Linked DNA regions of Homo sapiens. The protein of the gene in region 3 purifies or fractionates together with the protein of the main gene of each other region. This does not show direct contact. Each region holds a gene or a part of one and is shown on either strand. Other genes may lie near its edges.

The links.
Region 1: the proteins of HNRNPM (region 3) and TARDBP purify together in Homo sapiens (affinity purification with mass spectrometry; 2 studies listed by BioGRID, with this or other methods). This does not show direct contact.
Region 2: the proteins of HNRNPM (region 3) and SYNCRIP fractionate together in Homo sapiens (co-fractionation; 2 studies listed by BioGRID). This does not show direct contact.
Region 4: the proteins of HNRNPM (region 3) and LMNA fractionate together in Homo sapiens (co-fractionation; 3 studies listed by BioGRID, with this or other methods). This does not show direct contact.
Region 5: the proteins of HNRNPM (region 3) and EFTUD2 purify together in Homo sapiens (affinity purification with mass spectrometry; 2 studies listed by BioGRID, with this or other methods). This does not show direct contact.
Region 6: the proteins of HNRNPM (region 3) and DDX39B purify together in Homo sapiens (affinity purification with mass spectrometry; 4 studies listed by BioGRID, with this or other methods). This does not show direct contact.
Region 7: the proteins of HNRNPM (region 3) and SF3A1 fractionate together in Homo sapiens (co-fractionation; 2 studies listed by BioGRID). This does not show direct contact.

What each region holds. Positions count from the first base shown.
Region 1 is NC_000001.11:11,015,654-11,019,153, reverse strand, and holds part of TARDBP (TAR DNA-binding protein 43), read right to left. Parts: intron 2,311-3,500; coding exon 2,147-2,310; intron 422-2,146; coding exon 281-421; intron 1-280. UniProt on the Homo sapiens protein: RNA-binding protein that is involved in various steps of RNA biogenesis and processing.
Region 2 is NC_000006.12:85,618,887-85,622,386, forward strand, and holds part of SYNCRIP (heterogeneous nuclear ribonucleoprotein Q), read right to left. Parts: intron 532-3,500; coding exon 382-531; intron 54-381; coding exon 1-53. UniProt on the Homo sapiens protein: Heterogenous nuclear ribonucleoprotein (hnRNP) implicated in mRNA processing mechanisms. Component of the CRD-mediated complex that promotes MYC mRNA stability.
Region 3 is NC_000019.10:8,482,975-8,486,294, reverse strand, and holds part of HNRNPM (heterogeneous nuclear ribonucleoprotein M), read right to left. Parts: intron 3,138-3,320; coding exon 3,084-3,137; intron 693-3,083; coding exon 1-692. UniProt on the Homo sapiens protein: Pre-mRNA binding protein in vivo, binds avidly to poly(G) and poly(U) RNA homopolymers in vitro. Involved in splicing.
Region 4 is NC_000001.11:156,113,492-156,117,510, reverse strand, and holds the start of LMNA (lamin), read right to left. Parts: upstream 2,801-4,019; 5' UTR 2,593-2,800; coding exon 2,237-2,592; intron 1-2,236.
Region 5 is NC_000017.11:44,857,946-44,861,445, forward strand, and holds part of EFTUD2 (116 kDa U5 small nuclear ribonucleoprotein component), read right to left. Parts: intron 2,599-3,500; coding exon 2,487-2,598; intron 2,101-2,486; coding exon 1,960-2,100; intron 1,237-1,959; coding exon 1,135-1,236; intron 1-1,134. UniProt on the Homo sapiens protein: Required for pre-mRNA splicing as component of the spliceosome, including pre-catalytic, catalytic and post-catalytic spliceosomal complexes. Component of the U5 snRNP and the U4/U6-U5 tri-snRNP complex, a building block of the spliceosome.
Region 6 is NC_000006.12:31,532,004-31,535,503, reverse strand, and holds part of DDX39B (spliceosome RNA helicase DDX39B), read left to right. Parts: intron 1-18; coding exon 19-137; intron 138-2,592; coding exon 2,593-2,724; intron 2,725-3,500. UniProt on the Homo sapiens protein: Involved in nuclear export of spliced and unspliced mRNA. Component of the TREX complex which is thought to couple mRNA transcription, processing and nuclear export, and specifically associates with spliced mRNA and not with unspliced pre-mRNA.
Region 7 is NC_000022.11:30,332,895-30,336,394, reverse strand, and holds part of SF3A1 (splicing factor 3A subunit 1), read left to right. Parts: intron 1-641; coding exon 642-743; intron 744-856; coding exon 857-928; intron 929-1,699; coding exon 1,700-1,801; 3' UTR 1,802-3,500. UniProt on the Homo sapiens protein: Component of the 17S U2 SnRNP complex of the spliceosome, a large ribonucleoprotein complex that removes introns from transcribed pre-mRNAs.

The DNA.
Region 1 (3,500 bases), on a different chromosome or scaffold from region 3:
TAAGAAACTATTAACTTGACAAATAACCTTTTCTCTTTTCCATCCATAGCGAAAAGGAAGAACAAAATGAACAAAGGTTTAGTTTGGAGAAGTAATAAACTAAATATTTCAAACAAGCATAAAATATTCAGCATGCACTAAGGGCCAAAGACTTCAACAAGACAAAAGGATTTCATGAACACACCCTGCCGCTATCTTTTCTAAGTGTGTTTAACATTTTATCTTACAATCCTCTAAGGAAGTTTGTTGGCAAAAATTCCCAAAGCACAGACGCAAGTACCTTAGAATTAGGAAGTTTGCAGTCACACCATCGTCCATCTATCATATGTCGCTGTGACATTACTTTCACTTGTGTTTCATATTCCGTAAAACGAACAAAGCCAAACCCCTTTGAATGACCAGTCTTAAGATCTTTCTTGACCTAGAAAGGATGATACAAGTTTACTCTAAAAGTGCACATACTCACACACTCCATTCCCAAATCATAGTTCCTTAGAAAACAATTTGAATGGTTTCAACTGGATGCAGTGGCTTAAAACTTAAACCAAGTTAGTCTTAACAGTAAAAACAAGGAGGTTAATATTGAATCCATACTGTGTTAACAACAGAGCAAAACTCACTTATACAACAGAAATGTTTTTGAGTTTTTTAAAAAAGAGAGATGGGGCCAGGCGCGGTGGCTCACACCTGTATTCCCAGTGCTTTGGGATGCTGAGGAGGGTGGATCGCTTGAGCACAGGAGTTCAGGACCAGCCTGGGCAACACAGCAAAACCCTGTCTCTACAAAAAATACAAAGATTAGCCAGGTGTAGTGGCATGCACCTGTAGTCCCAGCTACTTGGGAGGCTGAGGCACAAGAATAGCTTGAACCCAGGAGGTGGAGGTTGCAGCGAGCCTACATTGCACCACTGCACTCTAGAGCCTGACTGACAGAGCCAGACCCTGTCTCCAAAAAGAAAAGAAAAAAAGAGAGGCCAGGCACAGTAGCTCACGCCTGTAATCCCAGCACTTTGGGAGGCGGAGGCGGGCAGATCATGAGGTCAGGAGATCGAGACCATCCTGCCTAACACGGTGAAACCCCATCTCTACTAAAAATACAAAAAATTAGCCAGGCGTGGTGGCAGGCACCTGTAGTCCCAGCTACTTGGGAGGCTGAGGCAGGAGAATGGCATGAACCCGGGAAGCGGAGCTTGCAGTGAGCCGAGATCATGCCACTGCACTCCAGCCTGGGTGACAGAGCAAGACTCCGTCTCAAAAAAAAAAGAAAAAAGAGAAACTGAGTCTGGATATGTTCGCCAAGGTGGCCTTGAACTCCTGGCCTCAAGCAACCCTCCCACCTCAGCCTCCCAAAATGCTGGGATTACAGGCATGAGCCACCACAACAGGATTTTAACAGAATGTCTTAGAATGAATTCAAAGATAAACTAAATTTAATGTTTACAAATTTTAAATGAAATGGAAAAACCTCCCATTAGTTTAATATATAAAGAAAAGCTATTGTCACCTACTTCCCTTAAGCCTTCATGCAACAGTAGGATTTTACAATATCAAAGGCAATAACATAGGGTACAACATATATGTATAAATATAACAAATATTGGAAGTATCATCTGTGTAACAGAAAGGACAGTGCCATTAAAATAACAAGAATGTGGCCGGGCGCGGTGGCTCACACCTGTAATCCCAGCACTTTGGGAGGCCAAGGCAGGTGGATCACTTGAGGTCAGGAGTTCAAGAACAGCCTGGCCAACGGGTGAAACCCTGTCTCTACTAAAAATACAAAATTAGCCAGGCATGATGGCGGGCACCTGTAATCCCAGATACAGGAGGCCGAGACAGGAGAAATCACTTAAACCCGGGAGGTGGAGGTTGCAGTGAGCCAAGATCGTGCCACTGCACTCCAGCCTGGGCAGCAAAGTGAGACTTGGTCTCCAAAAAAAAAAAAAAAAAAGAAAGGTAACAAGATTGTGGCTGGGCATGGTGGCTCAGCACATTGGGGTCGAGGCAGGAGGACAGTATGGGCCCAGGAGTTTGACGCCAGAACCTAGGGAACATAGTGATACCCCATCTCTATTTATACCAATAAATAAATGCTAGATACTCATTCACTGGTAAAGAAAAACTGTTTGATGCAATCGAAGTTTACCTGCACCATAAGAACTTCTCCAAAGGTACTAAAATACTCTTTCAGGTCCTGTTCGGTTGTTTTCCATGGGAGACCCAACACTATTAAATCGGATGTTTTCTGGACTGCTCTTTTCACTTTCACTGCTGATGAAGCATCTGTCTCATCCATTTTTCTTTTGTTATCTAAATAAAACGAGCAGAAACCTTTTAGAAATCTTCACTTAGCACTTCTTTAAAAACACTACCTCCTACATCTAGAAATGAGAAGCAAAAAGAAGACTCTAAGAAGAATAAGACACTGAAAACTTGGCAAGAAGTGATGTTTGCTCTAGAGGACAGAATAAAGGCTTAAGTTTAGTGTCTGAGGTGCTTTTCTGGTGCAAATTCAGTGATTTCCAAGTTTGTTTTTTGTAGCATTTCCGGATTACAATCTCTCCCTCTCAAAAGGTTTATCAAAACAAAAATAATTCTACTTCACTTTGACTTTAAATATCAGCAACTTGTATATCCTGATGAAGATTTAACTTTTATCTTTCCTAAACATTCAACAACAAATACACAACTTTTGTAATAAAACAGAAAACCAGGTACAGTGGTGTGTATGCCTGTAAGTTCCAGCAACTCAGGAGGCTGAGGAGGAAGGACGACTTGAGTCCAGGAGTTTGAGGCTGCAGTGTGCCTATGAATAGCCACTGCAATATGCCTGGGCAACAGAGCGAGAGCCTCCATCTCTAATTTCAAAAAAGAAAAAGAAACCAAAAGTTTGGCTTACTTAAAAAAACATAACTGGCTGGGCGCGGTGGCTCACACTTGTAATCCCAGCACTTTGGGAGTCTGAGGCAGGTGGATCACAAGGTCAGGAGTTCAAGACCAGCCTGGCCAAGATGGTGAAACGCCGTCTATACTAAAAATAAAGAAAAAATTAGCCGGGCGTGGTGGCAGGTGCCTGTAATCCCAGCTACTTGGGAGGCTGAGGCAGGAGAATCGCTTGAACCCAAGAGGCGGAGGTTGCAGTGAGCCAAGATCGTGCCACTGCACTCCAGCCTGGGCGACAAGGGCGAGACTTCGTCTAAAAAATAAATAAACAAATAAAAATAAATAAATAAAAATACAAAAATTAGCCAGGCGTGGTGGCAGGCACCTGTAATCCCAGCTACTCATGAGGCTGAGGCAGAGAATTGCTTGAACCTGGGAGGCGGAGGTTGCAGTGAGCCAAGATCGTGCCACTGCACTCCAGCCTGGGCGACAGAGTGAGACTGTCTCAAAAAACAAACAAACAAACAACAACAAAAAAACCCCCCAAATAACCTCAACCTTAGGTTATTTAGAAGAGAAGGGGAGATAATTTTTTTTTTTTGAGACGGAGTCTCATT
Region 2 (3,500 bases), on a different chromosome or scaffold from region 3:
ACAATTTCAATATTTTCTCCCTCCAAGTCTTTGCCATTCATTTCTTCCATAGCCTTAAAAAATTAGATAAGTCAATATAAAAATAGGACTTTCATACAATTATGATTCATTTAAAGTTGGAATATCATTTATCATTAATGTGGGAAGGACAAGAGAAAGCCCCATGCAGGCAGTCAAATAATTTTATTTAAAGATGCAGATATTCAATTATTTTTCATTTTTACTTAGAAAACTGCCAACATCACTAAAACCAAAAGGTTTTAGTTTGAATGGATTCCATGGACTTCCAAAGTCTCCTCCAATTTGTAAAACTATTTTGAGATTCTAAAATGACTAAATTTGTTAGTCTGATTTAGATGCCTGTAATTCCACCATATTTACCTTGACAGCACCATCTCGCTCATCAAAATGAATGAACGCATAATCTTTTAACTTCTTCACTCGTTCCAGTTTCCCAAACTGACTAAATGCCTTTTCTAAAATCTCTTCTGTTACAGTATTGGCAAGGTTGCGTACAAACAGCACTTTTACCTAGGGGGAAGAAAATACCCCCCTGTATTATTTCCAAAGAGTTCCATTTCTAAGATACCACCACCCCACCCTACAAAGTTAACTCAAATCACAATCCATTAGAAGAATGTCAGAATATAAAAAAAAAAAAAGTTTTCAACTCCTTGGGTAAATATCAAGCAGCAGAACTGCTGGATCATGTTGAAAGACCTGAAATAGATGCTTTGCCAAAAAAGATATACAGATGGCAAAGAATCTCATGAAGATGCTCAATATAATCTGTCATTCGGAAACCGCAAGTCAAAACTATTAGAATGGCCAAAATCCAACACACTATAAATGCAGGTAAGAATGCAGAGCAATAGAAACTCTCATTCATTGCTGGTGGGAATGCAAAAGGGTATAGCCCCTTTGAAAGACAGTTTGGCGATTTCTTACAAAACTAAACACACACTTCCATATGACCCAGCAATCCTGCTCCTTATTTACCCAGAGTTGAAAACTTACATGCACACAAAAACTTAGAGAGAGATGTTAATAGCAGCTTTATTTGTAACTGCCAAAAATTTGCCAGACGCAGTGGCTCACACCCGTAATCCCAGCAATTTGGGAGGCTGAGGCGGGCAGATCACCTGAGGTCAGGAGCTCGAGACCAGCCTGGCCAACACAGTAACACCCCGTCTCTACAAAAATACAAAGATTAGCCGGGTGCGATGGTACGCAACTATGGTTCCAGCTACTCGGGAGGCTGAAGCATGAGAAATGGTTGAACCCAAGAGGCAGAGGTTGCAGTAAGCCGAGATCGTGCCACTGCACTCCATCCTGGGTAACACAGCGAGACTCTGTCTCAAAAGAAAAACAAAAAAATTTCCAAAAATTGGAAGAAACCAAGATGTTCTTCAATGGGAGAATGGACAATTGTGGCACATACAGAAGGAATATTATAACTGATAGAAACTAGTTAAAAGCCACAAAATGACATAGAAGAACTTTAAATATGTATTACTAAGAGAAAGAAGCCAATGTGAAGGTTACATAATGTATGGTTCCAACTATGTAACATTCTGAGAAGGCAAAACTATGGAGACAGTGACTGCCAGTGGTTGAATGGGGAGGGATGACTAAGCACAGGACAGAGGATTTTTAGGGCAGTGAAACTATTCTGTATAATACTATGATGGAAACACGGTTATACATTTCTCCAAACCCACAGAACATACATCTAGAGTGAGACCTCATGTAAACTATGGACTTTAGGTAATCAATCTACGTCCATCAATTTTAACAAATGTACTATTCCAGTGCAGGATACTGGTAGTGAGGAAGGCTGTGCCTGTGTAGGGGGCAGAAGTCATATGGCAATTCTGTGCTTTCTGCTGTAAACCTAAAACTGCTCTAATGAAGTCTATGAAAAAGAAAATGCAGACTACAGGCTACATCAGTAATAATTACCAATTAGTAATTATTTTGCAATAAAAAAGATAATTTTTCCTAACAAAGTAAATACCATGCCCTCTAAGAGAGTTATTGAATGTTTAACACTTAACAAGAGTGGCCAAAACTAATTAGGACCTGCTTTTGAAATCTTAAAGGGGGAAGGACTGTTCAAAATATTAGTAAGACAAACTGTTCTCAATCCTGAAAGCTTCTCAAAGTAAAATTACAAAATTTAACCTCTTCACTAACATTATCACTTCCTCCTAAAATAACTTGAATACCATCTGAATGTGTTAATCTAAAGTGCTAACCCAATGAGAATTTATAGGCCAGAGGAAAAATGAATCCTAACTATTTTCTCTTCTCTAAGACCACTTATCCTTCAATAATATTCATAGCTCCCTGGCAGTTCATATTACCCTCAATTTAACTCAACTAGTGGTGTCTGACACCTAACCTGTAAGTAACAAAGAGGGAATTCTTAAAAGACAAAGGATAACTGGGGCATGGTGGCTCATGCCTGTAATCCCAGCATTTTGGGAAGCAGGATTGCTTAAGGCTAAGAATTGTAAGACCGGCCTGGGCAGCACAGGGAGATTAACTCTGCCTCTACAAAATTTTTTAAAAAAATTAGCCAGGTGTGGTAGTACACACCTGTAGTTCTAGCTACTTGGGAGGCTGAGGTGAGAAGATCTCTTGAGCTTGGGGCTACAGTCAGCTATGATCATGCCCCTGAACTCTAGCCCTGGGCCACAGATCTAGACCCTGTCACTTAAAAAAAAAAAAAAAAAAAGAGAACAAAGGATAGAACAAATAACTGCAAATTACTGCACCAGTGTGTAATAAAGTGTTGACTCAAGGGATGTTTATTCTTATACAATGTCTCCACTGACTGCTGAAGTCAGGATACCTAATAATGGCTAAATGTAACTGCAAGCACCTCTGCTGCGGCCAGTATAATTTACTGTTTTTAGTAGTAAGACTTTTAACCCCAAAACCATGTAAACTAATGGTGCCATTCTCAAAAACTCAAATTGCTCTTAAAAAACACACAAAATGGAAGTCAACTGTCTACAGCATGTAGGCGACTTCATTACAAGATTGTGATGGCTATACAATTATGGCTAAGTATCCACGCATCAATTTCTATTTTCACTTTGCAGGCACATGGTATTTCCAGTGCGCACTGCCTAGTCCCGTAGTAAAGAACATTTCTCCCAACTCTAAAAATATGGTTTAAAAAAAAATGTGTCCAGGGCCAGGTGCAATAGCCTCACGCCTCTAAATCCCAGCACTTTGGAAGGCCGAGGTAGGTGGATCCCGAGGTCAGGAGTTCGAGACCAGTCTGACCAACATGGTGAAACCCCAGCTCTACTAAAAAAAACACAAAAATTAGCCAGGTGTGGTGGTGGGAGCCTGTAATTCCAGCTACTTGGGAGGCAGGAGAATCACTTGAACCCGGGAGGCGGAGGTTGCAGTGAACCAAGATGGCACCATGGCACTCCAGCCTGGGAAACATGGGAAACAAGAGACTCTTGTCTCAAAAAATAAAA
Region 3 (3,320 bases):
GGCACGGTCAAAGCTGGCACCGCCACCGCCACCCATGGCCAGGCCCATGCGCTCAATGCCAGCGCCCAGGGCCGGGCCCATGGCAGGGCCCATGCGCTCGAGGCTGTTGGCACCCATGCGCTCCAGGCCCATGCGCTCGAGGCTGTTGGCGCCCATGCGCTCCAGGCCCATCCGCTCCAGATTGTTGGCGCCCATGCGCTCCAGGCCGGTGGCCATGCGATCCATCACGGGGCCCATGCGCTCCAGGCCAGCTCCCATACCTGCGGGCACCATGCGCTCCATGCTCAGGCCCATGCGCTCGATGGCAGGGCCCATGCGCTCCACGCCAGAGCCCATGCGCTCAATGGTCTGGCCCACACGGTCGATGGGAGCGGCCATGCGCTCAAGGCCGAAGCCCATGCCGGCACCCATGCGCTCCACGCCAGAGCCAATGCGCTCCATGGTCTGGCCCATGCGCTCAATGCTGGAGGCCATGTGGTCGAGGCCCAGCGGGCCCATGCGCTCAATGCCGGAGCCCATGCGCTCCACGGAGCCCATGCGGTCCATGACCAGGCCCATGCGCTCGATCTCGGAGCCCACGCGATCCATGCCGTGGCCCAGGCCCGCGCCCATGCGCTCCATGCCGGCACCCCCGAGGCGGTCAATGCCAGGACCCATCCTCTCGATCCCAGGGACGCTTCCTCCACCTCCACCTGAAACAGGGACACAAAACACAGGTGGGTGTCAAGAACTTGAGTGTGCGTGTGCACAACACGCCAGACCACTTCAGCTCATGGGCATGGATCAGGGGTAAAGGCCCACCATAATTTACCATTAAGACACCCCTCAAATGTTGACAACAGCTACAGCTGTGTGGTGGGCACATGGGGGCCTCCCAGCATTCTCTCTGCTCTATGCCACAGCTGAGATTTCCATAACACAACTTCTAAAGAACACCCCTGTATGTGTGTCTGTGAGGTGCTAGTGTCTGTGACAAGCTTTGTGAACCATGGACGTCAATTCCTGAGACATCTGAGGTTTCTCCATCAGCAGACACTGAGAAATGCTCCAGGGGGAGGCATGGACACCCCCCACTCGGGGGGCCACCCAGGGTAATGAACAGGAGTTATGTGGAGACAAGTCGGAGTCACTCCCACCTTCCCCTCCCAGCCTGTCCCTCTAGGATGCTCTGCTGGGGGCCACTCTGGCTGCATTTCCTCAGCGCTCCCAGGGCACAGAGAAAGGATTTTCGGCCACACCATCAAGCAGAGGTCAAAAAAACACACACCGAGAGATCCTCTGTGTACAAATGCACACAGCTGGCCACTTTTGGGGACCCTATTGTCAGGGAAACCAAATGACTTGCTGGCTTTGGAAAGAAGATGTTGATGGCACTGCAGAGTGGGCTCTGGTAGCGGCTGGGGGTCAGTCAGCAGAACGAAGGGACGCCCCCACCCGTGGTGCTTGCAACTCTGGAAAGCAGGGTCTGGCTCCGTCAGCAAGGCCACCCCTTTCCACATGCCGAGTTTGGGGCTCCTCCCCGAAACCCTGTCGCTTGCCTCTGAGAGTGGCCATCAGCCCAGAGCCAGCCTGTGACCGACCCAAGCAGCCTAGTCAAAGATACCAATTCAAGAGGAAACTGGGCAGTTTCTCTAACTGGCTCTGTAACTGGCCACACCGCGCCTGCTTCTCTAGCTGCACAGCACACAGTGAGCGGCCAAAGCAGGCCCGACTCTAAGAATGTGTGACTTTCAGAGGGGAGACGTCTCAGAACTTCCCCACAGTATAAGGAACCTAGCGAGAATGGGCACTTTGCCCAAAGGCATCAGAAATGAGGTGGGGCAGCTGGGTGTGGTGGCTCATGCCTGTAATCCCAGTACTTTGGGAGGCCAAGGCGGGCGGAACAAGGTCAGGAGTTCGCGACCAGCCTGGCCAACATGGTGAAACCCCATCTCTACTAAAATTGCAAAAATTAGCTGGGTATGGTGGCGTGCGCCCGTAGTCCCAGCTACTTGGGAGGCTGAGGCAGGAGAATCGCTTGAACCCAGGAGACGGAGGTCACAGTGAGCCGAGATCGTGCCACTGCACTCTAGCCTGGGCGACAGAGTGAGACTCCGTCTCTCAAAAAAAAAAAAAAAAAAAGAAATGGGAGGAAATGGTACCAGCGTGGAGCTCCAGAGCCAGCCCAACACAGAAGTCAGGAGGTGAGATGCCAAGATACTCAGAGGGAAAATCAGGCTGAAAAAGTACATTTGGGCCAGGTGTGGTGGCTCACATCTGTCATCCCAGCACTCTGGAGGTATGCAGGTCACTTGAGGCCAGGAGTTTGAGATAAGCCTGGGTAACATGTCAAAATGCCATCTCTACAAAAAAAATCAAAAAATTAGCCAAACCAGGTGGCACACGCCTGTAGTCCCAGCTACTTGGGAGGCTAAAGTGGGAGAATCGCTTAGGCCTGGGAAGTTGAGGCCGCAGTGAGCAGAGACTGCACCACGGCACTCCAGCCTGGGAGACAGAGCGAGACTGTCTCCAAAAATGCTCAAAAAGTACATTTTGTTCTCAGTATCCATAAAGCTGTGTATGAATGAAAGATTCAGAACAAAATGTTTCCGGCAGTCATCACTGGGCGATGGGGTTTCAGACCATACTTTCTTCATATTTTCCTAATGAGTACATTTATCTATTTTACAAGCATTTATTACTTGTTGGGTGGTGTGCTTTCAGTCTTATCATCAAGTCTAAGGAAAATATATTTACTTTTAGGAATTTATAATGTGGAAAACAAAACCCCCAAAAGAGAGGTACTCTAACAATGAAGATGGTCGGCCTGTGCACAGCACGTGCGGAAGCACTCTTTCACATGCATTCACTCTCCACAGCATCCCTGAGGCAGGTACTATTACACCCCCATTTTACAAATGAGTGCTATGAGAAACAGAGAGGTTCAGTGACTTGCCAAACGTCACACAGCTAGAAAAAGGCAGAGCTGCTCCCACCCCGGGCAGTCTGTGTCAGAACCCGCACTTCTCACCACTAAGCTCTACAGTCCCCAGCGATAACAGCCTGTTCTAAAAAAACAAAACATCAAACTAAGCGGTTCCTACCTCCTCCCTGCTTTGCAATGATCTCTCCTCTCTTCAGTGCATTACTTAGGATTTCTAAGGAAATCAGGAAGAAAAAAAAATTAGCCAAATTCCTCTATGGCAATAGAAATGTGCTCATTACAGATTCCAGAGTAGAAATACTACTAATAAAAATGACAAGATAAAGGGAAAGGGGTTTGAGAAACACACGCACAGACAAGATCATTTTACAGAGAACTAGGAGAGTCCTTGATGCTG
Region 4 (4,019 bases), on a different chromosome or scaffold from region 3:
CTAATCCCAACACTTTGGGAGGCTGAGGCAGGCAGATCACTTGAGGTCAGGAGTTCGAGATCACCCTGGCCAACATGGTGAAACCCCGTCTCTACTAAAAATATAAAAAGTAGCCGGGCGTGGTGGCAGGCACCTATAGTCCCAGCTACTTGGGAGGCTGAGGCAGGAGCATGGCTTGAACCTGGGAGGCAGAGGTTGCAGTGACCTGAGGTCACACTACTGTACTCCAGCCTGGGCAACAAAGCAAGACTCCGTCTCAAAAAAACAAAATAAAGGTTGATGGCCGGGCATGGTAGCTCACACCTGTAATCCCAGCACTTTGGGAGGCCGAGGCAGGTGGATCATTTGAAGTCAGGAGTTTGAGACCAGCCTAGCCAACATGGTGAAACCCCATCTCTACTAAAAATTAAAAAAAAAAAAAAAAAAAAAAATAGCCATGTGTGGTGGCACACACTTATAATCCCAGCTACTCAGGAGGCTGAGGCAGGAGAATCTTTTGAGCCTGGGAGGCAGAGGTTGTGGTGAGCCAAGATCGCACCACTTCACTCCAGTCTGGGTGACAGAGTAAGACCCTGTCTCAAAAAAAAACCGTTAAGCCTGTCTTCCTACACACAACTTCCATTGACTCTTCAGAAAGAAGGGTGATGGGCCCAGCGTGGTGGCTCATGCCTGTAATCCTAGCACTTTGGGAGGCTGAGGCGGGTGGATCACCTGAGGTTGGGAGTTCAAGACTAGCCTGACGAACATGGAGAAACCCCATCTCTACTAGAAATACAAAATTAGCCCGGCATGGTGGCACATGCCTGTAATCTCAGCTATTCGGGAGGCTGAGGCAGGAGAATCACTTGAACCTGGGAGGCGGAGGTTGCAGTGAGCCGAGATTGTGCCATTGCACTCCAGCCTGGGCAACAAAACCACACCTAGCAAAGGGTTCTAGGAAGAGCAGAAGTTTGGAGTAGATGATAAAAGAGAGAGAAGAAGTCAAAGCCAACAGCCCTTTACGGATCTCCAAGCACCCTTAGTGCTCTTGGCCTGGGTCTGCATAGAGAAAGGGAAGGCAGGAAGAAGGGAAACAAATTTTGATGGGGCTGGAAGAGAGGGCCTATACTTCCAAGCTCCCAAAGGCTTTTTTAGAAAAGAAGAAGGTGCAGTTGAGTAGGGTGGGGTAGGGTGGGGCAGGGGTGGGTAAAGTGGGAGTGGCCTGAATCTTCCAACGGCTGGATTTCAAAAATGTCACTGTATTCCAGCACTTCAATAAGACAAAGATCAAAACGTCAGCAGCTAAGAGGATGGGCCCGAGCAAAGACTGCCTGGCCCCGCTGGGAAAATGAAAGTGGCTCACCCCAAGGAGGGAAGGACAGTGCCCCCAACCCTCGAAGACACTAGGCAGAGGGCCAAGGGAGGAGTGCGGCCAGACCTGGGCATAACACAACTTCCTGAGCTGGGAGCCTCTGCCCTCTGCCTCCCTCCCTCCCTTGCATTCCTGGGCCAAGCAGGCCAAGGGCTGTGGGAGCTGCGGGGGAGCCGATCTCTCATCTCCCGGAGCTCTTTTGGTGGGCCTGTCAGAGCCCAAGGAAGGTCCCAGACACGCAGAGTGGCAGAGTGAGGGAGAACTTCCCAACCCTTAGAACCCAGGACAAGGTCATGCTGAGGGGGGGCCACCGCCAAGCCCTTGGGAGGGAAAAGGGGGATTGCCCTGCCTTCCTGACCTCGCTCCAACACGCTGGACAGATGCCAACTTGAGAGTTATGTCTTAGTGGGCATCATGTGTTCAGAGCCAGCTTGGGCAAAGCTAGCACAGTGCCAAGCCCGCTAACAAAGTTCTAACAGGACCCTTTCTGCCACTCCGATGTGTCCTGGGTGCCCAGAGTTCTTCGAGCTGGCAGGGCTAGTTCTGTTTTGCTCAAGCCCCTCCCCCCGGCTCCAAATAGTTGGCAAATCCCAATCTGACCGAATTCAGGCCGGCCCCAGCCCCAACTTGTCCCTGATACCCCCACCATTCCTTATATCCTCCCCGACCCTCTCCCAGAGACCACCACTTCCCTCTCTGTCCTGTCTTGACAATTCCCCTTGACACTGCCAGTCACCCGCTGGGGGCAGTTCCGGGGAGGGAGGAGACTATGGCAAAGTTATCGGCCTCCAGGCCCTCTCACTCCCTTCCTGCGGCCGGCCAGGGGCGCCGGCCCGCCGCCCTCTCCACTCCCCGCCAGGCACGCAGCCACCTGGGCGAACTCACCGCGCTTTCAGCTCCTTAAACTCCTCACGCACTTTGCTCAGCTCCAGCTGCAGGCGGGCGCGCTCCTTGGCTACTGAGTCAAGGGTCTTGCGGGCATCCCCGAGCTCGGCCTCGTAGGCGGCCTTGATGCCGGACACCTCGCGGCTGACCACCTCTTCAGACTCGGTGATGCGAAGGCGCAGCCCTGCGTTCTCCGTTTCCAGCGAGCGCACACGGTCGATGTAGACCGCCAAGCGATCATTGAGCTCCTGCAGGTCCTCCTTCTCCTGCAGCCGGGTGATGCGGGTGGGCGACAGCGGAGTGGAGCTGGCCTGCGCCCCGCTGCGGGTGGCGCGCCGCTGGGACGGGGTCTCCATGGCCGGCAGGTTGGCAGCGCTGCCCGCGGGGCAGGGGTCCCGGAAAGGGCGCGGGGCTCGGGTCGAAGGACAGAGACTGCTCGGAGTCGGAGTGCGCCGGCCGGCTGGCTCTCGGCTTGCTCCTGGCAGGCGTGGGGATCTGGGCCGGGCGCTGTCGGACCTCGGGATCTGGGTTGGCTGGTGTAGGTGCGGCGCTCCCGCGAACACTGAGTCACCGACGCCGGGGCAAAGGCTCTAATAGGTCCTCCTCTGAAGGGAGGAGGGGCCACTACTCTTAAAGGGGCAGTCCCAGATCCATTGGGGGTGGGGGCGGGAGTGGTGAGGAGGGGGAAGGACCGTTGGGGTGTGGCGGAGTCGGGCCCCACCCTCTCCAGCGCACCCCTAACTGCGTGAGGCTCAAGCTTCCCCTCTCTTGGCTCCTGCCTGCTCAGCACTGTCGGCTCCAAGCTTGCCCCCATTGCCTCAGACCTTCTGGGCTAGAGGGCAGAGCCAAGGAGGGAGAGTGGGTGGGCAAAAGGGTCGGGGAGAAAGAGAGGGAAGTGGGCGCAAAGCAAGGGAGAGGGTCAGGTAGGCAGGGCTGGGAGCCAGGAAAGTGGGGGGAGGGCTGAGGCTGGTGCCCATCAGTGTGACTCACCCTTCTTCCACCACTGGCTCCCCCTGTCCTCCCAGTAGTAATAGTGAGTCACCCCAACCCCCCTCCACACGTGGGCAGCCCATTCAGAGCTGCATCTCAGTGTGCCAGGAGTGGGGTGGAGAAGGAATGCCTGGGTTCCCTGGGGGGAGCAAAGTTCTGGAACCTGAGTTCCTTTATGCCCCCAGTTTGGGGCCAGGGATCAAGGAGTTTGGGGGGTCCCTTTTTTTCTTTCTTTTGCCCCAATCTATCTCTCTTCAAAGCCAAGCATTCGTTTTTAGACCCAAGCAACAAGCCACAGTCCCCTAAAGAAGTCCCCTAAAGAAAGCCAAGAATAGGAGCCAGGCACTGCCCCTTCCATCTCCTGTCCCCTTCCTTTGGACCCAAGCACTGCCTGGGTTCCTTCCCCCTTCAGTCCCTTTCTACTGCTTACCGCACCCAGTCAACTTATTTTTTTCCCCCAGAACTGTACTTATTTTAATGGATAATTTAAAACAGATACCAGAGCTGTGCATGCATTCATTACGTTGCCAAGACACTAGGTCCCAGATTTCTGTGGTTCCCAGAGGGGCCTGAAAGGGGAAGCAGGGCTGGGGGCTGGACAGCCAATATTGGGTCTCTATCCTGGTTTCAGCCAGAAAGAAGGTAGTGGGGGGCAAGAAGGTAGTGGGGGACAGGAACAGCAAAGACCCCACAGCCTTGCTGGCTGCAAAGGCCAGCACCATACTCATCTCTACTTTCCTCTCTGGCCAGGTCCATTCTGCAGCTGGCTCTGGGGAGGGGCCAGGCTCTCTCA
Region 5 (3,500 bases), on a different chromosome or scaffold from region 3:
GAGTCTCGCCCTATCACCCAGGCTGGAGTGCAATGGTGCGATCTTGGCTCACTGCAACCTCTGCCACCCGGTTTCAAACAATTATCCTGTCTCAGCCTCCTGAGTAGCTGGGATTACAGGTGCCCGCCACCATGTCTGGCTAATTTTTGTATTTTTAGTAGAGACAGAGTTTCACCATGTTGGTCAGGCTGGTCTTGAACTCCTGACCTCAAGCAATCCAACCGCCTTGGACTTTCAAAGTGTTGGGGTTACAGGCGTGAGCCACCGTGCTCGGCCTGTTTTATTATTTTTCAATGCATTTATTTTTTGAGACAGGGTCTTGCTCTGTCACCCATGCTAGGGTGCAGTGGCATGATCGTAGCTCACTGCAGCCTCGAACTGCTGGGCTCAAGCAATCCTCCTGCTTCAGCCTGCGGAGTAGCTGGGACTATAGGTGCAAGCCACCACACCTGACTAATTTTTATTTTTTAGTTTTTTGAGACAGGGTATGACTCCATCTCAAAAAGGAGAGCAATGGCACAATGATTGCTCATTGCAGCCATGACCTCCTAGGCTCAGGTTGGAGAGCAATGGCACAATCACAGTTCATTGCAGCCTTGACAGTCTAGGTTCAGGTGATCCTCCCACCTAAGCCCCCCAGTAGCTGGACTACAGGTACATGCCACTGCACTGGGCTGGTTTGTAGAGACGAGGTTTCACTATGTTGCCCAGATTGGTCTCAAACTGGGCTCAAGCAATCCTCTCACCTCAGTCTCCCAAAGTGCTGCAATTACAGCAACGGACCACCATGCCCGGCCTGGCTATTTTTTTTATTTTAATTTTTGTAGAGGCAGTGTCTCACTTTGTTGCTCAGGTTGGTCTTGAATTCCTGGCTACAAGCAATCCTCCCACCTCGGCCTCCCAAAGTGCTGGGAGTGAGCCACCAAGCACGGCTGAGCCTTGATTTTAAACGTATGACACAGCAGAAGGGGGCAAACCAGTTCTCAAAAACCTTCCCATATAAGGAGCAACAGATCATGGTTTTCACAAACACATGTACTCTCTCTTCCCTTGGAGCTTCCCAGGAATTCAAGGATTTGGTCACTTGTGAAAAGTCTGGACCGTGAACCCAGCTCCCGGCAGATACTGCTGTACCTTGATGTCTATCTCTGAGTACATCTTCCGCAAATCATGCATCACACAGTCCAGGTAGAGCTCCCCAGTGCCCAGGATCACATGCTCGCCAGACTCCTCCACCTGAAACACAACAGGCAGTCACAGCCTGGATTCTCTTATGCCAGCAAAGGCACACACAAACAAAATCAAGGCCAGAGCAGACAAGAAGTTGCCTATCAGAAACAGCTACTACTTAGCATCTGTTCCAGCCTCTTCAAGAAGGTTCAGTGAGGAGCATCTGCCTATGAGTGGGTCCTCAAGACACCAGGACCACTCAGCATGGTGATACTAGGTGTGAAGTCAATGATTTAATTCCCATCTTAATGATTTAGGTCAAACTCTACCCTATACCCATGGACATAAGCTAGCCCTTTAGCCCTCCTGGCCTGCTACCTGGAAAGGTACACTGGCAGGCTCATAGTGTACAAGGATCAGAGTAACAACTCACTTTTCCTTCTCTTCTCGAGAAAATCAATTCAAAGTATACTCATTAAGAAATGTATTTTTGTCTAGATAAAGACATCTGCGGAACACAAATACGCACACACACACACACACACAACCTTGTCCTATACCCCCCATCACTGCCCCCTCCTACACAGGTCTTGTTTTAACACACACACATACACACACACACGTGTCTTGTCCTGCCTTGACATGACAGCCATAGGCTGGGCTTGCTCCTGACACAGCTTCCTGTAAGCAGCAGATCATGAACACCTGATGGATGGGAAGCGGTGTGCAGCTCTGCCCATTCAGCTGGGGATAGTGGGGCTTGGCGGCTGCTGCAGGCCATGGGCATACCTTGGTGGTGAGGGATGGATAGCTCTTGTTGACCTTGCGCAGGCCATCAAGCATCTTGGGCAGCTCTGAGGGGTTGACTGGCTCCACAGCAATCTTGATAACAGATGTGGTATTGAACTTCAAGGGTCGGAAAATCTGAGCCTGAGATCCAAAGCACAAAGGACTGAGGGCAACTGGCATGAGCAGGCACAGAAAGTGCAGAGGTATGAGAAGAGAAGAGGACTTGCTTAGGATCAGACTATGTATTCCCCAACCAGGAGCCTGGTGCTGAGTGGGGGTAACCTGAAGGGCCATTTCTTCCCAGGTATTCTGGCAGAACAAAGAGAGGAGGAAAATAATAAAAGGCACCCGTCCTAATTCCTCGCATCTGAACTGAGTACAGGGAGAATCCAGCAGGGTCATATCTAGAAGGCTAAGCCTGAAACCAGGACATGGCAATGACTGTGGATTAGTCCCGTTTGTGCTCATGTGTGTCCCTGGGACCATCTAGCTTAAGCCAACCCAGTTGGTCTCTTCAGAAACTCTACCTCCTCATTGCCTCGGGGTTCGGTTATGGTTGCTGTCTTCACAATTGGTTGATCAACACCTTCAATCAGAACCCAGTTGCCAGCAGGAACACGGTTCACCTCGATGTGGTACCTGAAGCAATGTCCAATAAGCAGCAGTGAAACTTAGGCAGAGCATTCCCTAATTTTTTTTTTTTTTTTTTTTTTGAGACAGGATCTCACTTTGTTACCAGGCTGGAGTGCAGTGGCACAATCTTGGCTCACTGCAGCCTCGAACTTCCAAGGTTCCAGTGATCCTTCTGCGTCAGCCCCCCAAGTAGCTGGGACTACAGGCACACACTAACATGCCCAACTAATTTTTGTATTTTTGTAGAGACGGGGTTTTTTCATGTTGTCTAGGCTGGTCTTGAACTCCTGAGCTCAAGCAATCCTCCTGCCTCAGCCTTCCAAAGTGCTAGGATTACAGGTGTGAGCCACCACATCCAGCCTATTCCACAAAAATTTACTGAGTACTTGCTGCGTGCCAAGAGCAGGGGTGAGCAAAACAGATACATTCTAGCAGGGGAGAGATACAGTAAACAATCATTATCCACACATGTATGTGGTTACAAACTGATGGGCATTATGAAAGAAAAGTACAAGGTATTTCTGTGAGGACATAAGAGGAAAATCTTATTCCAATTGCAGGCTCATGGTAAAAAGCTGCCCAAGGTGTCGACTGTAAGGGGCTAGCAAAAGCATCAAAGAAGGCCGGGTGTGGCGGCTCACGCTTATAATCCCAGTGCTTTGGGAGGCTGAGGTGGGTGGCTGGATCACCTGAGGTCAGGAGTTTGAGACCAGCCTGGCCAACATGGTGAAAACTATCTCTACTAAAAATACAAAAAATTAGCCAGACATGGTGGTGCACACCTATAACCCTGGCTACTTGGGAGGCTGAGGCAGGAGAATCGCTTGAACCCGGGAGGCAGAGGTTGCAGTGAGCCGCAATCACGCCATTGCACTCCAGCCTGGCTGACAGAGAGAAAAAAAAAAAAA
Region 6 (3,500 bases), on a different chromosome or scaffold from region 3:
TTTTCCTTGTTCTTGTAGACATGCGTCGGGATGTCCAGGAAATTTTTCGCATGACCCCCCACGAGAAGCAGGTCATGATGTTCAGTGCTACCTTGAGCAAAGAGATCCGTCCAGTCTGCCGCAAGTTCATGCAAGATGTAAATACCCTTCTACCTTCTCTCCCTCCACTCCCCGCCCGCTGCCTCCTCCCCTTCCTCGCCCTCTTCCTCAGACTCCCTTGTCATTCAAGTGCCAAGAAGGCGGCTTGTGCCCAACTGGGAGTAATGACTCCTTGAAGAGACATACAGAAGCAGAGACAGCTAGTGTTAGGGCCTGCGCGGGTGCCAGGGAAACTCCGGAAGACTTGGTCGGGTTAATGTGAGAGCGGGTAGTGTTCGACTTTTTCATAAATCACAACATTTTTGAACCTCTTCTCCCTTTGGGGGAGGGCAGGATTTTTCTGCCCTACCACCCACCCATCCATCGTCTCTTACATGCACCCTACAGCCACGCACCCTCAAGGTGGCATCGAGCGTACAGCTGGAGCCTTCTGCTCACCAAAACTCCTACTTCCCGGTGGCAGGAGAGCAAGAGAGGGACAGACAGATGGCAGGGCATGTCCAAAAGAAGAGCATCAGCACAAATGAATCCTCCCCTTCCCCACCTCCAGGGGTGGGGGCCTTTGGCACCTCAATCCCCGATACCCTACTCCTTCCCACCCACATCTCCTTGCACCCATCTGGAACCTCGGTTGATGTGAGCCGGCAACAGAGAAGCACCGTGGCGCGGCGAGGGAATGCAGACGGCACCCAGCGGTGGATGGCGGCAGCGGAGGCCGCGGGGAAACCTGACCAGGAAGCTGAGGACCAAACCAGCCTCTTTTTCCGTTCCCGGTTTTTTTCCTGAACCCAACGCGTGCCGTGCCCCGTTTCCCCCAATATGTGTTGGGGAGGGGTGTCCTGAATGGGGTGGTAGATTTTTTTTCTTAAAAAAATTTTTTTGTTTTTTTTAATACTCAGAGGAGAGGGACATAGGAAAGGTAAAGTGGATGTAATCGGGTGGTTGTTAGGGTTTGGGGCTAGGTGGGGCCAATTGCATAAGCAGTGGAGTGTGTTCTTCCCCTCCCTGCAGTGTTCCTTCCCGTGGGATGATCACTCTTTAGCTGTATTTGGGGCTAGAATGAGATTTGAAGGAGGCCATGGAACTTCTCTTTAGAAAGCCTGCCTTGGCTGGGCCTGGTGGCTCACCTCTAATCCCAGCACTTTGGGAGGCCAAGGTGGGAGGATTGCTTGAGCCCAGGAATTTGAGACTAGCTGGGGCAGTGTAGTGAGACTTTGTCTCTACCAGAAAAACCGGGCGTGGTGGCGCATGCCTGTAGTCCCAGCTACTTGGGAAGCTGAGGCAGGAGGGTTTGCTTGAGCCCGGGACGTGGAGGTGGCAGTAAGCTGTAATTGTGCCACTGTACTCCAGCCTGGGTGATAGAGAGAGACCCTGTATCAAAACAAAACAAAAAACAAAACCTGCCTTCTGGGATTGGGCTTCTGGTTTTTTTCCCATGACACACGCATCCTTTCCTATTTTGTCCTCTGGGTCTTCATATTAACTATCTTCCCCCAGGATAGTATAAAAAGTGTTAGGAAAGTTGGGCTTTGGAGTTGTGGTAATTTCTGTCTTTGTTACTTTCCTCCCCTTCAGGGGGTTTTTTAATTTTAAAGATGAATGCAGTGAGGTATAATGGTGTGTGCCTGTAGTCCCAGCTATTCAGGAGACTGAAGCAGGAGGATCACTTGAGCCCAGGAATTTGAGGCTATAGTGTGCTATGATTGTGCCAGTGAATAGCCACTGCACTCCAGCCTGGGCAACATGGTGAGATCCTGTCCCTTAAAAGTGTATCTGCTGCTCTGAATTTGGTATTTTAACACCACTTACTGATACCTTTCCTGTAAACCTGTAGATGGTTTAATTCTTAGTCAAGAGACCAGTCTCATCTAAAACTATCCTGTTGTGGTCTGACGGCAAGTAACTCATCTTGAGTAATTTTTGTTTCTCCTTAAGTGGCATTTTGACTGTCCATTGCAGCATTCTGATCTTAAAAGACATCCACTTTGCTAATGCACACGAGATTCTCTTAGTTGAAGTAGGAGAATCAAATGGAGCAGTTGTCCTCCCCCCACCCCATGTTCTTAGAAGCACCTCTGATGGAGTTATTCTGACCTTGAGTCACTGCCTCCCATCATTTCCCAGATGTTTGGTCCTTGCTCTCCCTTTGAGAATCATCTCCCATTTTCTTTCCTCTCCCACCTCTATTTGAGGTAATGGCATCTGTGCCATTGGGTGGTTTCACTGCTCCTTGACTTCATTTGCAGTTTCTTTCCCATGATAGTTTTTAGTTGGGCAGTCTTAAAACTCATCTGATAGGAAGGAAATTAGATGTAATGTGAGAGAGACCACAGTAAAATGTGGGTATTTTTGGGAGTGGGGTGGGGTTTTCAATCTTCTCTTTCCTCCCCATCCCCCCATGGGGTGTATTGGAGATCAACTTCCTCCACCCCCCCAGGTTTAACCCCCCCACTCTGCCCTCCTCCCGTTCCCCACCCCCTTCCTCCCCCCCAGCCAATGGAGATCTTCGTGGATGATGAGACGAAGTTGACGCTGCATGGGTTGCAGCAGTACTACGTGAAACTGAAGGACAACGAGAAGAACCGGAAGCTCTTTGACCTTCTGGATGTCCTTGAGTTCAACCAGGTCAGTTAGACGTCCAGTAGGGGGATGAGCATTGGAGCACTCCAGCTGTAGCAGAAACCTGGATATTAAGTACACTTTTATTGAGGAAATCACATGTGTGATGTGGGAGAGAATAATGAGGGTATAAATATCTTAGGGGCTGAGCATGAGTAAGGTGGGAGCTGCTTTTCTATTCTATGGCTGGCACGGGTATGTCCTCAATAACCTCAAGGAAAATAAACTTCAAAAATTAAGATCCTTGGCCAGGCACGGTGGCTTATGTGTGTAATCCCAGCACTTGGGGAGGCTGAGGGAGGTGGATCACTTGAGTCCAGGAGTTTGAGACCAGTCGGGGCAACATGGCGAAACTTCATCACTACCAAAGAAGAAAAAAATTAGCCAGGTGTGGTGGTGTATGCCTGTAGTCCCAGATACTCTGGTGGCTGAGGTGAGAGGATAGCTTGAGCCCAGGAAATTGAGGCTGCAGTGAACTATGATTGCACTACTGTGCTCCAGCTTGGGCAACAGAGTGAGATCTTGTCTCCAAAAGTCCTTGAAGGATTTTAGGAAGTTGTTAAAAGTCTTGAAACGATGTTTGGGGGCATGTTAGGGTTCTTGAATGTTTAATTCCTCTAATAACTGCTTATTCAAGAGAAGCATTTCTGACTGGGTGCAGGGCAGTGGCTCATGCCCATAATCCCAGTACTTTGGGAGGCTGAGGCAGGAGCATTGCTTGAGCCCAGGACTTCAAGACCAGCCTGGGTAACATAGGGAGACGCCCGTCTCTACAAATAGTA
Region 7 (3,500 bases), on a different chromosome or scaffold from region 3:
CACCACACACCCAGCTAATTTTTGTATTTTTAGTATTTTAGTAGAGATGGGGTTTCGCCACGTTGGCCAGGCTTGTCTTGAACTCCTGGCCGTAAGTGATCCACCACGCTGGCCTCCCAAAGTGCTGGGATTACAGGTGTGAGCCACTGCACCCGCTCTGTTTGTTTTTTAATAATAGTTCCCATTTCTTAAACGCTTAAGTACCAGGATAGAGCTAAGCACTTTACAGACACTTCCCCTCAATACTCAAAACAGTCATGAACCCTGTCTGGTGGATAATGACATTGAGGCTCAGACAAACCTTGTTAGCTGGGAAGCTGAGTTGGGAATCCAGGTCTTCCGACCCTGCAGGTCATATTCTTTTCCCTTGGGGTGTGCAGAGTATTTTCACTAAAGTTCTTCAGTTTAGCTCCAGACTCACCAAGAGACAAGATAGAGATTGTTTTAAAGAAAAGAAACCTAATCTTGCAAAGGGGGGTGACTTGTACAACCTCACAAGGGGTTATCAGTGGTGAATCAGGCCAGAATCCAGGAGCCCAGATGCACAGGTGACATTGTCTGGACAGGCCTAGGGATAGCAGAGCATAGTTCTTGATTGGCTCCGAGCTCCCTAGGCATAATGACCACCTCCTGTTTTGTAGGGTCCAGTGTCCATCAAAGTCCAGGTGCCCAACATGCAGGATAAGACGGAATGGAAACTGAATGGGCAGGTGCTGGTCTTCACCCTCCCACTCACGGACCAGGTATGGGTACTGCCAGAAACTGGCATCAGGTGCATGGGAACCAAGCATTCAGGGGAAAGCTTCCTCTAGCTGGCCTTACCAAGGAGTTGAATGACCGCTGCTTGATCCCACAGGTCTCTGTCATTAAGGTGAAGATTCATGAAGCCACAGGCATGCCTGCAGGGAAACAGAAGCTACAGTATGAGGTGAGTCAGTTTGTCCACAGACCTGTCCCTTGGGTCCTGACACCTCTGCTTTCACAGAAGCTAAATCTGTCATGGAAGCTAAAAGGGGAGTGGAGTGATATCTGGGTGTGGCCATCTGAATCCATCCTAGAAGTCATGATGCTGGCTGGGAGTGTTGGGGCAGGTGTGCCCAACAATGCAAGGCTCTGGTGGGGTCACAGTAGAGTCTTGTGTGGGATCTGTAAGATTCTTTGCCTCAATGACTGGGCATAGAGATTTAGTGACAAGACTTAGGCATGCTCTGGTGGGTTCCTGATCCAGTGGTTGGGCCATCCCTGCCAGTATGACCTCAGGCAGCCTGACTTGGAGGTGATAGTCTAGCCCCGCCTGATGCCAGGTCACATGGAGGCATTAATGTTCTTCTTCTCTGAACTTGAACAAATCCCTGCTCTGGGCCTCAGTTATCTCTATCCATTGAGGCTGTTGGGCTAAGTGATCCCTAAAGGTCTTGTGATTTCAGAGTCAGAGCTCCATGGAGTTGGTGAGGGGCCAACTTTTTGGGGAGTTGAGCTTTTGAGTCAAATGTTGACAAAGGGGAGGAGCGTAATTGGTGGGAAGAAAGGAAACAGTGGGAGGAATGAGAGGCCTCCAGTCCCCAACACCCTACCTTCTCACAAGCTCCTGTATTTGCTAAGTCCAGAGCGCAAACAGACCAAGTGCACAGTTGTAAGGTTGCAGCGGTATCCCCAAGGCTGGGTTGCCCCATGCTAAGGCACGCTGTCTGTTTTCCAGGGTATCTTCATCAAAGATTCCAACTCACTGGCTTACTACAACATGGCCAATGGCGCAGTCATCCACCTGGCCCTCAAGGAGAGAGGCGGGAGGAAGAAGTAGACAAGAGGAACCTGCTGTCAAGTCCCTGCCATTTTGCCTCTCCTGTCTCCCACCCCCTGCCCCAGACCCAGGAGCCCCCCTGAGGCTTTGCCTTGCCTGCATATTTGTTTCGCTCTTACTCAGTTTGGGAATTCAAATTGTCCTGCAGAGGTTCATTCCCCTGACCCTTTCCCCACATTGGTAAGAGTAGCTGGGTTTTCTAAGCCACTCTCTGGAATCTCTTTGTGTTAGGGTCTCGATTTGAGGACATTCATTTCTTCAGCAGCCCATTAGCAACTGAGAGCCCAGGGATGTCCTACAGGATAGTTTCATAGTGACAGGTGGCACTTGGCTAATAGAATATGGCTGATATTGTCATTAATCATTTTGTACCTTGACATGGGTTGTCTAATAAAACTCGGACCCTTCTTGTGAAATCAGTTAAATAAGACTTGTCTCGGTCACCTGTGCCCTGTCCAGACTCGAGGCAGTGGTAACACTGCACAGTGCTATGTGGCTTCTCTTTGAGGATTTTTGGGTTTTGTAACTAAATTCTTGCTGCCCTCATACTTTTTATGTATTAGAATCATATTCGTATTGCCCTTTTAAAACATTGGGATCCTCCAAAGGCCTGCCCCATGTATTTAACAGTAATACAGGAAGCATGGCAGGCACCATGCAAACCAAGGATGGATGGTGCAGTCCCTGTGTCAGTGGGCGGTGGTTTCCTGCTGGCCTGGAATCACTCATCACCTGATTGATTGGCTCTGTGGTCCTGGGCAGGTGCCTCATAGGTGTGTGGATATGATGACGTTTCTTTAAAATGTATGTATTTAACAAATACTTAATTGTATTAAGGTCATGTACCAAGGATTTGATAAAGTTTAAATAATTTACTCTCTACTTTTATCCATTTTATCCATTTTAACTCATGTAATCCTCATGTGAGTATTCCTGTTTAACACTTGAGTAAACTGAGGCACAGAGAACATAAGTTGCATGCCATAGTCACACACTGTGAAAGTGAAAAGAGAATGTGTGCAAAACACGTCACAGTCCTGGTTTCTGAGTAAAGGCAGGCTGTTATCTTTAGAATCAAGCTATCACAGGGAGATAGGCAATGCTGTGGGTGTTGGAGGAAGGTGAGAGCCTGTTGCTAACAATTTCCTGGTTTTAAAGCTAAGGCTGATTTTATTGGGAAGATCTCACATGTGTGTGGCCCCTGAGAGTTCCCAGTGCCTTTTATTTGCAGTCCTTCCATTTGGACCTCCTAGCTGCCCCATCAGGTCATCTCCAGGGCTCAGAGGGGTGAGACCATTTCCCAAGGTCACAGAACCAGCTCTCTAGTCACCACCCTGCCTCTCCCTCTCACCCAGAGTCAGTACCAGTTTTATGGCTTTATTACAAACTGCTGGGTCCCTCCCATTTTCAACTTGATTGATGGGATGTCATCCCTTATCCTGTCTGACATTTGCCTCTGGCCTGGTTGCTAGAAGTTTGCCCCAGGGGCAAGAGTTGAAATTTGGCTTCCTGAGGTGGGCTTTGTGGTTTGCGTCCCTAAAGTGAGCCCACTACTGGTTGCTTGTCCATGGCCAACACCAGAAATCCCCTGAGCACTACCTGGGTCTCATTCCAAGAAGGAAGAGGGTCAGGAGACCTGGGGAGTCTCATATTCCAAGTTCTTCTTTCTTTCTGGGAGCAGTGGGCAGTTCATGGTGTT